Regions from separate parts of the Homo sapiens genome. Here regions 1, 3 and 4 are each reported to be linked to region 2. Evidence: microRNA targets listed by miRTarBase, many of them from high-throughput screens and not tested one by one. Region 2 holds a microRNA gene; each other region holds the end of a gene's coding sequence.
What was found. Region 2 holds the annotated microRNA hsa-miR-450a-2-3p (AUUGGGGACAUUUUGCAUUCAU, at 1,380-1,401, shown strand). A microRNA usually pairs through its seed, bases 2 to 8, with sites in the 3' UTR of a target mRNA and lowers its output. Matches are read on the target gene's strand: a 7mer-m8 pairs with bases 2 to 8, a 7mer-A1 pairs with bases 2 to 7 and ends in A, and an 8mer does both.

Region 1 (4,167 bases), not on the chromosome of region 2:
ATGAGGCAAATGCTGTAATACCTTCCCCTTTGACAGGTTTGGATTCTTAACATTACTAGTGGTATTTCAGGAAGTGACGTTACAGTTACTTTCCTTATAGCGGCTAAGTGTATTAAGTTGAATGTAACGATGGTAATATTAATTTGTTTGAACTGAGGCCCACTACTGATTCTTTGACAAATTGAATTCTTATATTTAAATAATTTTATGGGAATGTTCCATCATAATTTCTAAATCATTTATATATCAAGGTAGCCTTAATTTGTATATGTTTCAGTACAATGAGATTTTATTGCCTCTGGGATGCTGTTTAGTTTGTATTTTGTTGAACGTTTTTATCCTAGGAAGAGAAACCTATGACTTGTGTACCTAGATCATCTGTTACATTAAAAAGCTGCTCTTTCAGCATTAGAGCTATAAATGAATGTTACCTTGTCGGGAAACAATCTAGGTTTTAGCTGTATGAGCTATGTTTATTATGGTGCTAATGTTCAGTAGCCACATTTGACTAATGTCTCCATTCTCTGTGATGCTGTGGCTAGCAGCAGAGCTCGCCAGTTCATGCCTGGACATACTGTCAGGGCTGGGCCCTCCAGCTAGCTCCTTTGGGGTTGAGTCCGTATCTTTTTGATGTGGAAGTATAAAGCAAGTATCTTGATTTCTAAACCCAGCAATTTTAGAATTGACCTTTATGAGTGAAGACTTTTGGAGCTTTTAAAGACCTTGGCAGTCATGATCTCAAACCAATTAGGAGCTCCAAGCTCCCTTCCCAGGTAACTGTTGGGAGCAATGGCATCACTGTATGCCCTTGTAATGGCTGGAAGGGACATGATCTTGTAAGTAGGAAAGCTGTAACTAAAAATTGTATTGTTTGCTTATTAGCCATGTATCTCTTAAAATTTTGTTATGTTTACAACGATGTACCTTATTGGCAACAAGTTATTAGTTTGATGTTTAACAATAGTGCCTTTAGTAAATTATTTTACAACTAAAACATGTTGTTTTTTGTTAGATCAACTTAGCAGAATGTAGACGTCCATGTTGAGATTTAAGATAAATAGTAAGAAATCTAAGTTTCTGTTTATTGTTTAGGTTTTAATTTTATTGTTGGTATTTTGAGACATTTTTCACACTAAAATTTAGTGGAAAGTACTACAGATTTCCCAGACCCCCCCCCAATAATATCCCCCTTTTCCAAGCCTCCCCCCATAGGTGTTTGTTAGTTTTAAGGGATTAAAAAGTAAAGGGCTAAGTCACTTTGTTTTTTTTTTTTTTTTTTTTTTTTTTTTTTTTAGCGGGAGTCTCGCTCTGTCACCCAGGCTGGAGTGCAGTGGCGCGATCTCAGCTCACTGCAGCCGGGTTCAAGCTATTCTCCTGCCTCAGCCTCCTGAGTAGCTGGACTATAGATGCATGCTACCACGCCTGGCTAATTTTTTTTTTTTTTGTATTTTTAGTAGAGATGGGGTTTCACTGTGTTAGCCAGGATGGTCTTGATCTCCTGACCTTGTGATCTGCCCGCCTCGGCCTTCCAAAGTGCTGGGATTACAGGCATGAGCCATGGCGTCCGGCCTCTTGTATGTTTTTATATTGAAATAAGTACAAGCAACGATACCATTACAAATAGCTCAGGAGTTTTTACAGTTCCATTAAAATGACGTGCTAAAATGTATAACGTTAAAAATAGTCCTTGAAATTAGAAAAGAGTAGACTCTGGTTATCTTGACCATGTAAATTTTTAATGAGGTATTAAGAAGTGTGTAACAGTTGAGGTAACAACTTGCATAGGTATTATGAACAATTTTAAACATAGCCATTTAATATTCCAGATGTATTTTCGGCACAAATGATTTGTCTATTCAGTGATAAAAGTCTCACTGCACCTCACTATCAGCTAACCCAGATGACTTGTTTTGTGAAATTTAAGAAAAATTTATTGGTAGAGACCTCTTTCAAGTTTGTACTTAACAGATGATCACTAGTGGTGAACAGCATTCTACAGGATACTATCTTTCACTAAGACTTCAACCTGCAAATAAACCCACTTATAAAAAAGGGATACATGATCTTCCTGTGGTTAACAGAGCTTAGATACATAGCTGGTCTACAGAGATTAGTTGATTCTACCCTCTCCAAATAAGATAAAGTTAGCAGCAACAGGACTTTAAAGAAACCCAGTGAGATTATCAGAAGAAGAAAAAGAGTGACTCACACTGTATTTTTTTTTGTGCAAGTTTAGATAGATAGCTTTTAGTTTTTTTTTTTTTTTTTAATGCTCAGGGCCAGTGTTTTAAGAGGCTCCTACCTAGTAGTCACATAATCCTAGCAAGAGTAAATCAAGCTTTAGTTATTTAGAATGAGATGCTAGACATAATAATAGTCCAGTTGCCAATTTTGAACACTTATCTTTTCTGCCCTATAATTTTTTCTCTTCAAGACTCTATTCCTTTGAACTAAAAAAAATACATAAAGTTTTAAGAGATCTAATGTCATCAGACATTATAAAATGAACTCATACCCAAGGTAAACTATTTGAATAACATCATACACTGGTTTACTAAATTCAGACTTTTTATGACTGCTTAATTATTAGACTTCTGGACAAACCTGTTTGCTGCCAGACAAAAATCATAAATCCCAGCCATCATTTTTTTCATGTCCATAGTTCCAGAGTTCACTTAAATATACTATTTGTAAAGCTGCCATTTTCATTTATAGTTTGACTATGCCAAAGAGCAATTACTAAAGCAATTTTGGGGTTACATTAACCAAAATAATGTCAATTACAAGGCCTGTTAACACACAAAGCCTCAGAAATACCAGTGAGTGTGACTGAAGAATATTTAGGTGATACCTTGACATGTCACTTCAATAACTCCAAGGGGCAAGGTAACTTCAATATACAAATGAAAGACTATTAGTGACCAAAGTAGAGTCTAATTTTCCATCTATTAAGAATTTGTATAGAAAATACCTGAAAAAGATACATGTATATAAAATGATGCCACTTGAACTTTGTTGGTAGAAGATTGCACAAGTTCATCATCCGAGCCAATTAAGACATAAAAATATAAAAGAGGTAACATCAGTCTGAGGTAAACACCAAAAGTTTAAAACTCCAAATATGAAAAAAGTAGTTACCTTCAGTTGATATATACATTTATACTTTGTAAAAAAAAAAATTGTTAGATATAAAATGTATAAATGTAGTATACACTGATTCACAAGAAAAAATGAAGTTTAAAATGGTACATCAGTCTTTTAAAAAGTATATATATAAATCACAGGAAGAAAACCCCATTGTCTTTGGATCAGCTAAGGATTTCATTAGACGAGGTATCAGCGTCTTCATTGGGATGTTGGCTCCCCAACAGGAGCTCTGGAGGCAAAAGTTTAGAATGTCCATTCTCAGTAACTCGTTGGGTATAAAACAAGATATAAGCTTGAGCCTTGCATACTTCATCCATAGTGCACATGCTTAGTTTGGAATCATTGCAGTGTACCCAGAACCCTAGAGTGAAGCACAGAAATACATTTATGAAGGGACTTTAGAAAATTCTAGTATGAAAGGCATTGAGTGAGAAGCTTTTTCTGAAGGGAAAATAATTTTCTAGCCAATTCATTTTTCTTTAATGAGAAATATAGATTGGGCAGTGTTACCCTGGAATTATCTACCTTTATTCTAAAAGTAGCTTAAGTTTTTCACAGCATGTGACTGATTAGAGTACCTGACACTATTTATTCTTTGTGTAAATCTACCAGTTAATGCTTTTGCCACTAATCATACAGGATGATCATCCCTAATTCCAAAATCTGGCCAGGCATGGTGGCTCATGCCTGTAATCCTAGCACTTTGGAAGGCCGAGGCAGGCAGATCACCTGAGGCCAGGAGTTAGAGACCAGCCTGGCCAACATGGTGAAACCTGTCTCTACTAAAAATACAAAAATTCGCCAGGCGTGGTGGTGCACACCTGAATTCCCAGCTACTCAGGAGGCTGAAGCAAGAGAATGGCTTGAACCTGGGAGGCAGAGGTTGCAGTGAGCAAGGATGGCGCAGCTTGCCCTCAAGCCTGGGTGATAGAGGGACTGTCTTAAAAAAAAAAATTCCAAACCAAAACTTTTTGTGCCAACATGATGTCATAAGTAACCCTGAACACATTTTTTTCCACT
Region 2 (4,167 bases):
TTCATTTTAAACCTCTGTCCCATGTTTGTTATTTTCTGTAGATTCAATCAAATTATCTTAAGGAAACAAATGAAGTGTCAAGCTATAGGGGTTGACTTAATCTAGTCACTCACTCAATGGAACCTTTTTCAGCCATTGCAAATAATAATGATAGAGAATATACAGAAACCTGGAAAATGCTTATGATATCAACTTAAAAAAAATCAGGGCCACAAAATCACATGGACACCATGATTGAAAAATAGGAGCAGAACCTGGAGGAAACCTGCAAAACAGACATACTTGTTACTTAAGGGTGGTGGGATTAGAGCTGAAGTTTCTTCTTTCTCTACTTTTTCATGGTTTTGTGTGTGTGTGTGTGTGTGTGTGTGTGTGTGTGTGTGTGTGTGTGTGAGATGCCACGTTTTCTTGTTATGTTGTCAAAATATAATTCTCTAAAAAGTCTTTAGGGGTCATGGGTGATACAGAAATTTGGGATCGGTCAAGGATGCACAGATCTCAGACATCTCGGGGATCATCATGTCACGAGATACCAGTGTGCACTTGTGACAGATTGATAACTGAAAGGTCTGGGAGCCACTCATCTTCATAGCAAAACATGTGGTAAGTATTACAAGACGAATCAATGAAAAGATCAGGAGGAAAGTGGGCCCTAAGCAAAGAAGAAAGGGGTTGCTATGGGATGGGGTGGGAGGATGAGTTGTGTTTTCATAGGAGTGTAATGGGAATGCCTTTATTTGTGTCTTTATTGCTTTAAATGTTTGTTGAATGAATTGAAACTTACATAAGGTATATGATTTTATACTTGTGCTAGAATGCTAAAATAAAGAATTTATGCTCAAGCAAACAACTGGAAAACACTTTGCTATAAGCATTACAGACACAGGGTCATTTTTAGTATGTTGAGTCCACACAAGTGGTCAAGAAAAACCATAAAAACTACATGAACAGAAAGCCCCAGTTAAAAAAAATGCATAAAGATGCTCATTTCAATATTTTAAGGATGGAAGTTAGGAACATCCTGAATGACCAACAACAAAGGATTAGACAAATAAAATACAGCGTAGCTAGCTAGTACAATAGAATAGGATGCTTTCATGTAAAATAATGTTTCTGAAAGTAATTTTCATGTCATGAGAATGTGCTCCTGATAAAACATTTAGCGATTGAAAAAAGGTGCAAAATATTTTCCCATCTCTGCAATATAGGTATATAGGGAGCATTCTGTATGAATAGTTTTGTATCAACATACAGATAAAAGGCTAGGAGGAAACATATAAAAACTTTATTGTGATTATCTCTGAGTTGTGGTATAAAGGTGACCAAAGAAAGATGCTAAACTATTTTTGCGATGTGTTCCTAATATGTAATATAAATGTATTGGGGACATTTTGCATTCATAGTTTTGTATCAATAATATGGGGAAAAGAGGCTATCAGGAAGTATACCAAAAGTCTAGAGGTGGTTATCGCTGACTTGTGTCACTATAGGCAATCAAAAACGATACTAAACTGTTTTTGCGATGTGTTCCTAATATGCACTATAAATATATTGGGAACATTTTGCATGTATAGTTTTGTATCAATATACAGATGAAAAGATGGAGGGAATAAGCAAAAAATCTAACAGCGGCTATCTGTGGTTTACTTCTGTGATAAATGTAAGATGCAGAATTATTTTTGCAATATGTTCCTGAATATGTAATATAAGTGTATTGGGATCATTTTGCATCCATAGTTTTGTATCAACATATGGAGAAAAGTCTAGGAAGAAATATACCAAAACTTGTAACAGTATTATAGTATAAAATTATAGGTAATGTTTGTTTTTCTCTTTATACTTTTATGTATTTTCCAAGTAATATTTGCATAAACAATAAAATGCATTGCTTTTATAGCAATAATAAAACATTTTATTTTTAAAAAGAGTTTGTATTTTTTTTAAAGCATGAACCCCTGACATAAGGGTGGGGGAAGACTTCCTATTTGGCCAGCAGTGGGCCTAGAATACTTTTTCAAACATATCTGGGAAACCTTTGTACAACTTCAGTTGGATCTGCAGTGCAAATGTGTTTTCATTTGCTCTTGGCAAAGAAAAGAGAAAGTATAACTAAAAAATATAACCACGACAGAGTTATAATAGTAATATTAGTAAACAAACTGCTATCTATGTCTAATCAAAGTAACATTTAAAGAAGTATAGAAAGCTGAAACAGGCTCCTTTTCCTCTAGTAGCAATTCAGGAAGGTGGTACTTGGATGCTCGCCCAGGGCCTCAAGACGCATTGGCCAGTTTGAGATATGCCCAAGTCAGGAAAACACCTTATTTAGGTTATTTCCACTCAGCCAACTTCTTGCAGATGCGGGTAAAGCCCCCCCTGCATTTTCCCGCAAATTCAGCTGAGCTCCATAGTAACTCTGGTGTTGCAGAACACATGTGACACCTCAATTTAGGCGATCCTTGTTCTGGTAAGAGATGGAACCATTTGGTCACGTACCTGGCCCATGGTCTGAAGGGCACCTACCAAGGTTTTAGCGTTCCTCAGTGGCACTGATTTGGACAGAGACACATTACAGGAGGATCTAAGTTCCTTCCTATCTTTTTAGTAGCATTTTGGGAAACTGTTCCCCCACCAAGGACATATTTGGCACTCTAGCAAGTCCATATGACTAGACATTACTTTCTTTTTTTTTTTTTTTTTTTTGAGACGGAGTCTGGCTGGCTCTGTCACCCTGGCTGGAGTGCAATGGTGCGATCTCAGCTCACTGCAAGCTCTGCCTCCCAGGTTCAAGCGATTCTCCTGCCTCAGCCTCCCAAGTAGCTGGGATTACAGGTGCCCGCCACCTTGCCTGGCTAATTTTTTTGTATTTTTAGTAGAGACGGGTTTCACTGTGTTAGCCAGGATGGTCTCGATCTCCTGATCTCGTGATCTGCCCACCTTGGCCTCCCAAAGTGCTGGGATTACAGGCGTGAGCCACCGTGCCCGGCCGACATTACTTTCAAAATAGATCCATCATATTCCTTAAAGGAGAAGCTGAGTTGTGAGGCAAATATATATACACATATCCATTTACAAAGATACAGGAGACCATTCCTCCAATTTTCTGATGCCCTGCCCTTGTTCTGCTTAAGAACATACAATCATACAACCAAACTGGTCCCCATGCTTAAATGTGTGTACTCCTCTTTAAGGAGCATAAGCATTTTTATCTGCCACACTCTGTCAATCAGAGCATATTTACTGGGTGCCTACCTCTGTGCTAGTTACTTGTGGATAGAGGAGCGGGTAGGGGAGAAGCGGAGGTTAAGGTGATACTGAGCCAGAGAGGCCTTGAACACACGAATACTTTGTCTGCCACTGGGTACAGAGCAGGGATCAGCTGAGGCTTTGACCTTCGTCTGAGCCAGGTCAGACCACACAGAGAATCTGCTTTGCTAAGCAACCATCTAAGTGGCCTCCTTTCCCCTAGGGCTCACTCTAGTCCCTGCTGGACAAAATGTATGGAATAGGGGCAGAGTGTGGGAGGGACCCCTTTCTAAATGGGAGGTCTCGCCTCTAGGGCTGAGAAAGAGAGAGAGAGAGAAATCATTCCAAATTGAGCATTGATCTTAAGCCCCTTTCGTTGACCAGTGAAAAAAAAATCTTCAGCCCCTGAATTTCTTTCTATATATGTATATATAGAGAAAGACAGAGAGACAGGGTCTCACTATATCGCCCAGGCTAGTCTTGAACTCCTGGGCTCAAGCGATACTCCCACCTCAGCCTCCCAAAGTATTGGGATTACAGGCGTGAGCCCCTGCGCCCGGCTGAATTTCTGAACCAGTGAAATGTCCTAGAATTTGGCCAGTACAGAGATTGCTTCTCAGAGTTGGAAGTATGCCAAGAGGGGTTGAGGAGGGGCAGGTGCAGAAGGTGCTGAGGGCTTCCCTTTGTTAACAGGGTACAAACCCTCATTTTACACAAGTCCAGCCCCTCATTTTACAGAAGAGAAAACCAAGTTGCAGAGAGAGAAAATAAGTTGCAGAGAGGTCGTGCAGAGAATTGGGCAATGTTACAACTTGAACCTTGAGCTTCAGGGCTTTTTCCATTGTAATATACTGGGTCTAAAGGACACAGGGAGTGACTTGGAAAGACTCTATGAAGGATATGGGACTTGATGAGCACCTG
Region 3 (4,167 bases), not on the chromosome of region 2:
TTCCAAGTGTAGATGATATGTGGGCAATAATACATAAGCATCTGTAACTCAGGGGGGAGTTCTGGAGCTGGAGATGAAAATCTGGGATGTATTAATGTATTACCTGATATTTAAAGCCATGAAACTGGAAATGACCAAGGTAGTGGGTACAGATAGAGAAGAGGTTGGAAAATTGAGCCTTGGGAACAGTCCAACATTTAGAGATCCAGAAGGTGAGGAACAGCAAAGAAGTCTGAGAATAAGCTGCTGATGAAGTAGAAGGAATATCAGAAGGACGTAGTGTCCTAGAAGGCAAGCGAAGAGTGTTTCTAATGGAAGAGTGAGCATCGGTATCAGCTTCCACGAAGTAATGGTCAATAGATTTAGCAATGTGATGATCATTCGGCAACCTTAACAAGGGCAGCTTTGATGGGGGCGGTGGACACCTGATTAGCAAGGGTCCAAAGGAGAGTGGGAAGATGGAATTGGATAACTTGCTCTGTTTGCTGTAGAAGGGAGTAGAGAAATTGAGTGGTAGCTGGACAGGCGTGTGGGGTCAAGATAGCTTTTGTTGTCTTGCTTCTAAATTGGGGGAAATTAGTGTCTGTAGGCTGAAGAGAAAAATCAAGTAGAGAGGGATTTTTTTTTTTTTGAGATGGAGTTTTGCTATTGTTGCCCAGGCTGGAGTGCAATGGCGCGACCTTCGTCTCCCGGATTCAAGAGCTTCTGCTGCCTCAGCCTCCCGAGTAGCTGGGATTACAGGCGTGCGTCAGCCACCACGCCCGGCTAATTTTGTATTTTTAGTAGAGATTGGGGTTTCACTGGTCTCGGACTCCTGACCTCAAGTGATCCACCCGTCAAGCCTCCCAAAGTGTTGAGATTACAGGCGTGAGCCACTACGCCCGGCTGAGAGGGAAATTTTGATGGTATAGGAAAAAGCAGTGTCTTTGAGATGGCCAGAGGGATGGGAAATCTAGTAAAAGTAGGGGTTGGCTTTAGGTGGAAGCATTCTTCTACAATAATGAAGGAAAAGAAGAGTACGTGGTCACCGACTCAATTAGGTAGGTAGGTAGGTAGGTGCGATGTGAATGTTGATGGGGAACTCCGGAATGGTTTATTTTCTCAGTGAATCAGGAAGTAAAAGCTGAGAAGGGATTCGTAGTTTGAGGTGAGGGTAGGAATGAAACAGTCTCATGGGGCAGTATGAGAGTGAATGAATTGGAGGAAAGTAACGATTGCTGAGTAGCACTAAGGAGCCACCCGAGTGTGGTGGCGTTAGGAATTGAAATCCGCAGTAAAAAAGTTTTTGCAGGTCGATAGGACTATGAGAATCGCAAGAGGGCGCTCGCGGGCTGGTCCCTGACGGCCGAGTCTCTGAGATTCTCAGAATAACGCGGGAGATTCTCCAAGGAAAGAACCAGAAAACAAACTGCTTTTTCCTTCTCCAGAGACCGAGATACCTAAATACCAAAACTAGTGACGCTGTGAGCAGGATTCGAACCTGCGCGGGGAGACCCCATTGGATTTCGAGTCCAACGCCTTAACCACTCGGCCATCACAGCCGCGTGCGCTGTCGGCCCTGTGCAACTATAGCTGCCTATCAACACGCCCGCCTCCAGCCGGCTCCGCCCGGCTCCGCCCGGCTCCACCCGCGCCGCCTAGAGACGTCTGCGCTCGTGCGCCTCTGCTCGGTGGCGCAGACCATGCCTTCCCTCCAGCAGACGTCAGCAGCCCCATTGGAGCGGCAGCCTTCCTATTCTCCCTCTCCTCCCTGAGCATAGGATGGAAACAAAACGGGTCCAAATCCGAGCCCTGTCTTCCATACTCTTGAGGACAGACCCTGAGATGCCTACTTCAGGCTACTTCATGAAACCGAAGTGAGAATCTGTAGTTTCCAATACACACTAAAAGTGCAGGGAAACGGAGGTCCAAAGACGGATTGGCATGTAAGAAGAATCTTAGGGAGAGTCTAGAAGAAATGTTTCTTAGAAAGGCCCTTTGAAAGTGGAGAAGTGTACTTGCAGCAATAATATATCACTCCCCGCTAACTCAGGCACCGCTGGGATTCGAACCCAGGATCTCCTGTTTACTAGACAGGCGCTTTAACCAGCTAAGCCACGGCGCCGGCGTAAAACAGGTGTTCCTCAAGATAAATCAACTCTTAGTGGGTGACAGTAAGTGAAAATCAGCAAACTGCCTGCAGTGGTTCCTCAGTGACTCATCCCTTCCTAAGGTGCCTCTTCCCTTTCAGGTTCTGAGCCAAAGGGTTAATGCTTTGCTTCTCCATTCTTCCACACCTTTGGGGCCAACTCAACCATGAGTGAGCACATGACTCCATGTGTCCCTTAGCTACCTAGACTGACCTGCTGAAGGGCCCTCTCTGTGTGGTGACCAAGAAGCCAAGGAAGGCCGGGCGCGGTGGCTCACGCCTGTAATCCCAGCACTTTGGGAGGCCAAGGCGGGCAGATCACCTAAGGTCAGGAGTCCGCGACCAGCCTGACCAAAAATGGTGAAACCCCATCGCTACTAAAAATACAAAATTAGCCGGGCGCGGTGGTGGGCACCTATAATCCCAGCTACTCGGGAGGCTGAGGCAGGAGAATCGCTTGAACCCGGGAGGCAGACGTTGCAGCGAGCCGAGATTGCACCATTGCACTCCAGCTGGGTGACAGAGCGAAATTCCGTCTCAAATAAAAAAAAGGAAGCCAAGGAAGACAAACACCCTCGAATACCTCAGGGCACCACGGAGTTAAGCAGGGTTCCTCTGCCTTGGCCACCCGTGACCCGGGCTGGAGCTTACCCAAGCCCTTGGCCACACGCACCTCTCAGCTCTCCTTCCCAGGGCAAACCCAGCTGAGGCCATGCTAGAGGGGACAGCAGAGTCTGAGCTGGACGTGGACGTAGCGGGCTCAGCAGGGCCCTCACCTGGACAGGATGGGGGAAAAGAGGAATGGGGGTCGTCAGGAGATGGCCCTGTACACCCTCACTACAACCTTCCCAAAAGCAGGGCCACATCTCCCCTTGACATGCTCCCCTCACCCCAACCCCAAACTTCATTCCACAAAGTCCTGGGCGTTTTTATCTTTTTGTATTAAAAAAGTAGTAACAGACACAAATATCAAAAACACAAATGCCATCGGCAGAGGGTACAGCTGAGAACGCCTGGGTCCCACCTGAGGGGCAGCACCAGGGACTCCATGGTCCACCAACCTCCCCCACTCCAGAGCAGCTAGGGGCTGGAACCCCCGGGTCCTGCTTGGGCCTCAGGCTCTCCTCCCATCTGGGGAGGAGGTGGGAGAGAGAGCTGTCTCCCCGCAATAAATAAGTGCAGCCCCAACCCTCAAGAGTCAGATTCAGGCTCAGCTGGAATATGGAGAGGCCACTTCAGCAGCTTGTCAGCAACTTTGTCCAGGGGAGGGAAGGATTCCTCTCCAAAGGTGGGAGGTGACACTCCTCTGGGCTGGGCTGCGGAGTTCTGCTCTCTGCTCCCTAAGAGGCCAGAGGCAGCCCCTGGATCCTAGGCTGGTGATGGGGGTCCGGCCCCCTATGGTGGGAGAAGCTGGGGCAGTTTCCCACTGGTTGGTCTAGCCACATCTGAGTTCTGAGAATTGGGACATAGGAGAAGAAAGCCTCTCATGGACTCCTGGAGATGGTCCCAGAATGGAGTCTAGCTGGTGCAGTTTCCTGCTGTAGGTAAGGCTGGACTGGATGAGCTCCTGCCTTCTTCCTCCTCCTCCATAGCCAAGTCCTGAGAGCTTGAAGCCTTGGCCCCGCCTTGGGCCTCCTCGCAGCCCTCTCCCTCACCACTGCCGCCACCGCTGCTGCCCTGCTCGCCTCCACCCTCTTCCATGGGCTCCAGCCCCAGTCCATCCAGCTCTGAGAAGAGTGGGTCATCAGGGTGACCAGGATCTTGGGTGCTGCTCCCACAGTCCACACAGGCCTTGGTGAGAGAAATGGACATGAGAGAGTCAGACAGGGTTCTCACTGCTAACCTGCCAGCGCAGCTTCCCACCCCCAGCCCACTGTGCTTCCCGAAATGTACTCCCAAGAAGCACCAGTCCACACAGATGCACCTGCGGTCCAACAAGGTTGGACAGTGCCTTGTGCCCTCTACCCAGATGCCGTTACAGGACAGTCACAATGCATATTAGCATAGGATAGGCTGTGAAAAGTTCTGCAAAGACTCAC
Region 4 (4,167 bases), not on the chromosome of region 2:
CTAAACTGGAAAGCCTTAAAACTATGTCCAGGGTTTGAGATATGTCTATTTTAATATAGTAAGTACTTTATGTTCCTTTAGGGTATAATACACGCATCAGAATGCCCATAGAAATAATCCTGAAAAAGACTGACTGGCCTTCTCTTAAAACCTGTTATTTTCTTGCAAGTAATTTACAGAGTGTGTCAAATGAGGACACAAGAAGCTTACAATGTGTACTTTAATTTTTTTTATTTTTTCAATAAAGGGACAAAATGGGTGTATGAACAGGTTAATGCAGACAACTGCCAAAAAAACACAGACAGTGGTTTTTCCAATAGAACTTAACAAAGACCAGAAACAAATACAATAAAAAGCCAGGTTGTAATGACCTTTGGTCATCTAAATAAAAAAAAAAATAAAAACAAAGAAAAATAAAAGATCAAATTAAGTGCCTCTGTTTTGAACAGGGCACATAAGCAATAATAAATAGTGACTCCCATAGTAAAAGATAAAATTTCAAGTTACGACAAACAGCTTTCATTACAGGAATAGAAAAGGCCAATAACAAAATATTCTGCATTGCCATTTACAAAAAAGTATTGACTAAAGCGGGCTTTCTCTTTAATATGCTTTGCATATGAAATTCTTTCCAATCTAAATATAAAGCACCATTTAGTTTTTGGCAATGAAAAAAACTGCAAAACATTGGTTTTTTTTTTTTTTTCCTTTTTTTTTCTTTCTTTCTTTTACTGCATATGAAGGTAAGATGCTGGAATGTAGGGTGATAGAAGGAAAGGGACAAAAAGCACACTACATAACAAACCAACGTTATTAGCTTGCAGTACTGCATACAGTATGGCAGCAGGAAAAAGGAACAAAAAAGGATATGTACAACCCCTATGACAGCCATCCATGTGACATTCTAGCAGGCTCCCCCAAACCGCCATTATATGGCTTCTCATCTGTAATGTCACACTTTTTTGTTTCTCTCTTTTTTTTTTTTTTGAAGCATACAAATAATTTGCACTATATTATCCTGCCAAATTAAAAAAATATACTGTGGCAGCCTGTCTTTTTTTTTTCCACTACCAAAAAAGGTACATTGATACCTTTTAAGAGAACAAGCAACAGTTAAAAATACAAGCTTCAATATAAATACTATAGTGCCTAACACTAGATGAACATTTAATTCAAATACCATTCTAGAAATACAGAAAAAAGACCATAAATGTATTTTAGCATAGGAATCAACATGAGTGTGCATTTTCCTATATTTAAGTACTATATAATCTTAAACCTTTCCCCAATGTATGTTTTTTTTTTTTACAACCTGAAGAGCGGTGTGTATCCAAGGCATAGAATTTCCACTACCATTTTTAAATGGATAACAAGTCTTGTAACACCACCAAGACAATGGAACCCTAAAATGCAGTTCCCCCCTAAACATAATGAAGTGTTTTTTAAAAAAAATTTTTCTTAACATTTATATTTAAAAAAGTTTTGTACAAAAAAATCCTTGCACTGTAGAAGCGAAAGCAATCATTCATTTCTATGTTAAGTGTATTCTGTTTCCATTCACAGCGCTTGCAATGTTGCGTCCAAGTAAGTAAGCTCAATAGTCAAGTAAATGGCTGGCAAAGTTTTTTTTTTTTTAGTTTTTAAAAAATGCTCCTCAATGAGATTGTGTTCAATTTTTTTTCAGCATTCTTGCAACTTTTCCCTTAAGTATAGACCTGTAAACTGGGAAAATTGTACAGTGCACTTAATTGTCCTATCTGAGCAGGTTTATTTTATACTCAACCTCTGTATCTCTGATTAGAGAAAAGATACAGATATCACAGGCAGAGTCAAGTGCTATTTGAACACCAACTGGGGCAGATGCTAGCTTAATAAAAAAGAAAAAATTAAAAAAATAAAAATAAAAACAATGAATCCTCTTCCATGTTAACACAAATAGCACACAGTGTATGGAAAAGAAATGAAGTACAACTTTTAGGGAGCACAGACATATATACTGCTACTCTTAAAATTCTTTCTCTTCTTTTTTTAAGAATGTCACATTTAAATGCAAGTCTTAAGAATTCATAGTTAATCATCATTGTATCAATATTAGCTTATATACCTGTTCTAGTTTTAAATGGCAAATAGTACCACGTTGTGCTAATAAATCATATTATTTTCTTCTGTTCCCCTCTGTCAAACCTTATTGTCAGCCTCTTCCTTTCAATATGGTATACAAGGTCTTAAAGTTTATCATTTGATTGTCCACTTGACAACCAAGTAGATCTGGATCTATTTCTTTTGGTGCCAGTATTTTTAAAAAGACATTATTAAAGCAAATATCTTCATAAAATGAACTCCTTACTAGTGTATTTAATTGCGTTCCAGGGCTTTTGCACATTACACATTCAATTTAATCATTGTTTAAAAAAAATAAAACTTTGGGCAAAACAGCCCATTTCTTTTAAGCTCTCACCAGGAGCAAAGTAGCTTTTATACTGGTATAATCAGTTTTGTTTATAAAATTAAACTAAAGGAAAAATGATGATTAACTAGGACATAATGGGTCATCTTTTTAGGTAGCCATTGTTGTGAGAAATACAATATAGAATTATATGCTAGTTCCTAAGGTTTATTACCTCACCCAATGCTGAATTAAGCTACAAGTTTATAACAAGTAGAAAGAACCATCGATGTGGTTTTAATAGATCCAAGGCACTCATATTTTAAAACCAAATGATAGAATAAACTTGTTCTGTTTTTCTGTTAATTTGTCAATTCAAGGCCTTTTTTCTTCCTTTCCAATTGATACATTTAACCCTTTAGAGACAGACATTTAGCTCATAGAGATTTTTTTTCAGTGCTATCTATTCTGTCTATAGAGGGTTAATCCAAAGACTGTTTTTCCTCCTCACGTTATAAAATAAAACTGTACATGATATGTATTACAGAATGTATGCAGCATGGTCTTTTTCTCTCTCTCTCTCTTTTTCTCTCAGAACGGAACTGGAAACAGCAACATGTTTGCTCAGCAACGAATTAGGGACAATTTAAAATAGCCATAACATACCATACATGCTGTCTAAGTTTAAAAAAAAACATACACAACATGTAAATTATTGCACAAGAGAAAGGCTCAAAGTTTGCGTAAAATGCAATAGTATTGCCCCATACAGATCATGCATTCAAACGGTGAGAACATAAAGGAAAAAAAAAAAAAAGGAAAAAGAAAAAAGAAAAAGAAAAAGAAAAAAAACAGGTGTGCTGGTGACAAGCACTCTCATATTCTTAGCTTCGTTACTTCTGTTTGTTTGTTTGTTTGTTTAAATCACATGGGACTAGAAAAAAATCCTACAGGGAGTGGGGCTGGAGGGCGATGGGGAAGGGGAGTGGTGAAAAAGGGGGTGTCAGGTGGGAGTGAGGGAGGGGTATTAATATACCTCTATTCAGTTTTTATATCATTATTCAACACTCGATCACTGTGCCATTTTTTCATGTGTTTCTCCAGGGTACTGTACACGCTAAAAGGCATCTTACAAATTTCACATTTGTAAACGTCCTTCCCCACCTGGCCATGCGTTTTCATGTGCCTGGTGAGCTTGCTACTCTGGGCACAGGCATAGTTGCACAGCTCGCATTTATAAGGCCTTTCGCCCGTGTGGCTTCTCCTGTGGACAGTGAGATTGCTACAGTTCTTGAAGACTTTCCCACAGTACTCACAAGTGTCGCTGCGTCTGCCCTCTTTTGAGCTGGGCCTGCCCGGGCCCGGACCACTAATATGGGGCGTGCTCCCTCCACTTCCCGTGCCGCTGCGCCCCGAGATCCCTCCGTCCAGCTCCCCGGGCGGTGTGGAGAAGCGCAAACTCCCGTTCTCCGAGGAGTGCTCCGACGAGGAGGCAAAAGGCGATTGTCTGGAGTCTCCGAAGCTAAGGAAGGGATCTTTGAGCTGCCTGGAGGCCGCGTAGCCGGCGAGCCACTGCGAGTACACGTTCTCCGTGTTGGGCATCGCGGCCGGGGGCAGGTCGAACTCCTTCTCGAGCTTGATGCGCTTAGAGAAGGGGCTCAGCGAGCTGGGGCTGCCCAGCAGCAGCTTTTTGGACAGGCCCCCCGAGGCCGACTCGCCCGGGGAGCAGCCGCGGCCATTAACAGTGCCATCGTCTATGCGGTCCGACTCGCCGGCCACCG

Region 1: miRTarBase lists USP44 as a target of hsa-miR-450a-2-3p. Seed matches in the 3' UTR shown: 7mer-A1 at 2,750-2,756.
Region 3: the mRNA of PER1 is a reported target of hsa-miR-450a-2-3p. The part of its 3' UTR that is shown has no 7-base or 8-base seed match.
Region 4: the mRNA of BCL11A is a reported target of hsa-miR-450a-2-3p. The part of its 3' UTR that is shown has no 7-base or 8-base seed match.

The regions. Positions count from the first base shown.
Region 1 is chr12:95,514,846-95,519,012 of GRCh38, forward strand. It overlaps USP44 (ubiquitin specific peptidase 44), which reads right to left. Exons shown (of 6, transcript NM_032147.5): 6 at 1,715-3,508. The coding sequence ends at 3,309. It overlaps METAP2 (methionyl aminopeptidase 2), which reads left to right. Exons shown (of 11, transcript NM_006838.4): 11 at 1-994. Among named protein-coding and RNA genes, the nearest start is that of USP44, 35 kb to the right of the region's middle.
Region 2 is chrX:134,537,763-134,541,929 of GRCh38, reverse strand. MIR450A2 (microRNA 450a-2) reads left to right here and starts at 1,323; the gene lies at 1,323-1,422. MIR450B (microRNA 450b) reads left to right here and starts at 1,668; the gene lies at 1,668-1,745. It overlaps MIR450A1 (microRNA 450a-1), which reads left to right and starts at 1,499; the gene lies at 1,499-1,589. MIR542 (microRNA 542) reads left to right here and starts at 493; the gene lies at 493-589.
Region 3 is chr17:8,137,422-8,141,588 of GRCh38, forward strand. It overlaps PER1 (period circadian regulator 1), which reads right to left. Exons shown (of 23, transcript NM_002616.3): 23 at 3,051-3,919. The coding sequence ends at 3,647. It overlaps TRS-CGA1-1 (tRNA-Ser (anticodon CGA) 1-1), which reads right to left and starts at 1,541; the gene lies at 1,460-1,541. TRT-AGT5-1 (tRNA-Thr (anticodon AGT) 5-1) reads right to left here and starts at 2,104; the gene lies at 2,031-2,104. RefSeq lists silencers at 1,411-1,470, 1,491-1,660, 2,021-2,070 and an enhancer at 2,468-3,146.
Region 4 is chr2:60,456,980-60,461,146 of GRCh38, forward strand. BCL11A (BCL11 transcription factor A) reads right to left here. Exons shown (of 4, transcript NM_022893.4): 4 at 215-4,167. The coding sequence ends at 3,425. Among named protein-coding and RNA genes, the nearest start is that of MIR4432HG, 68 kb to the left of the region's middle.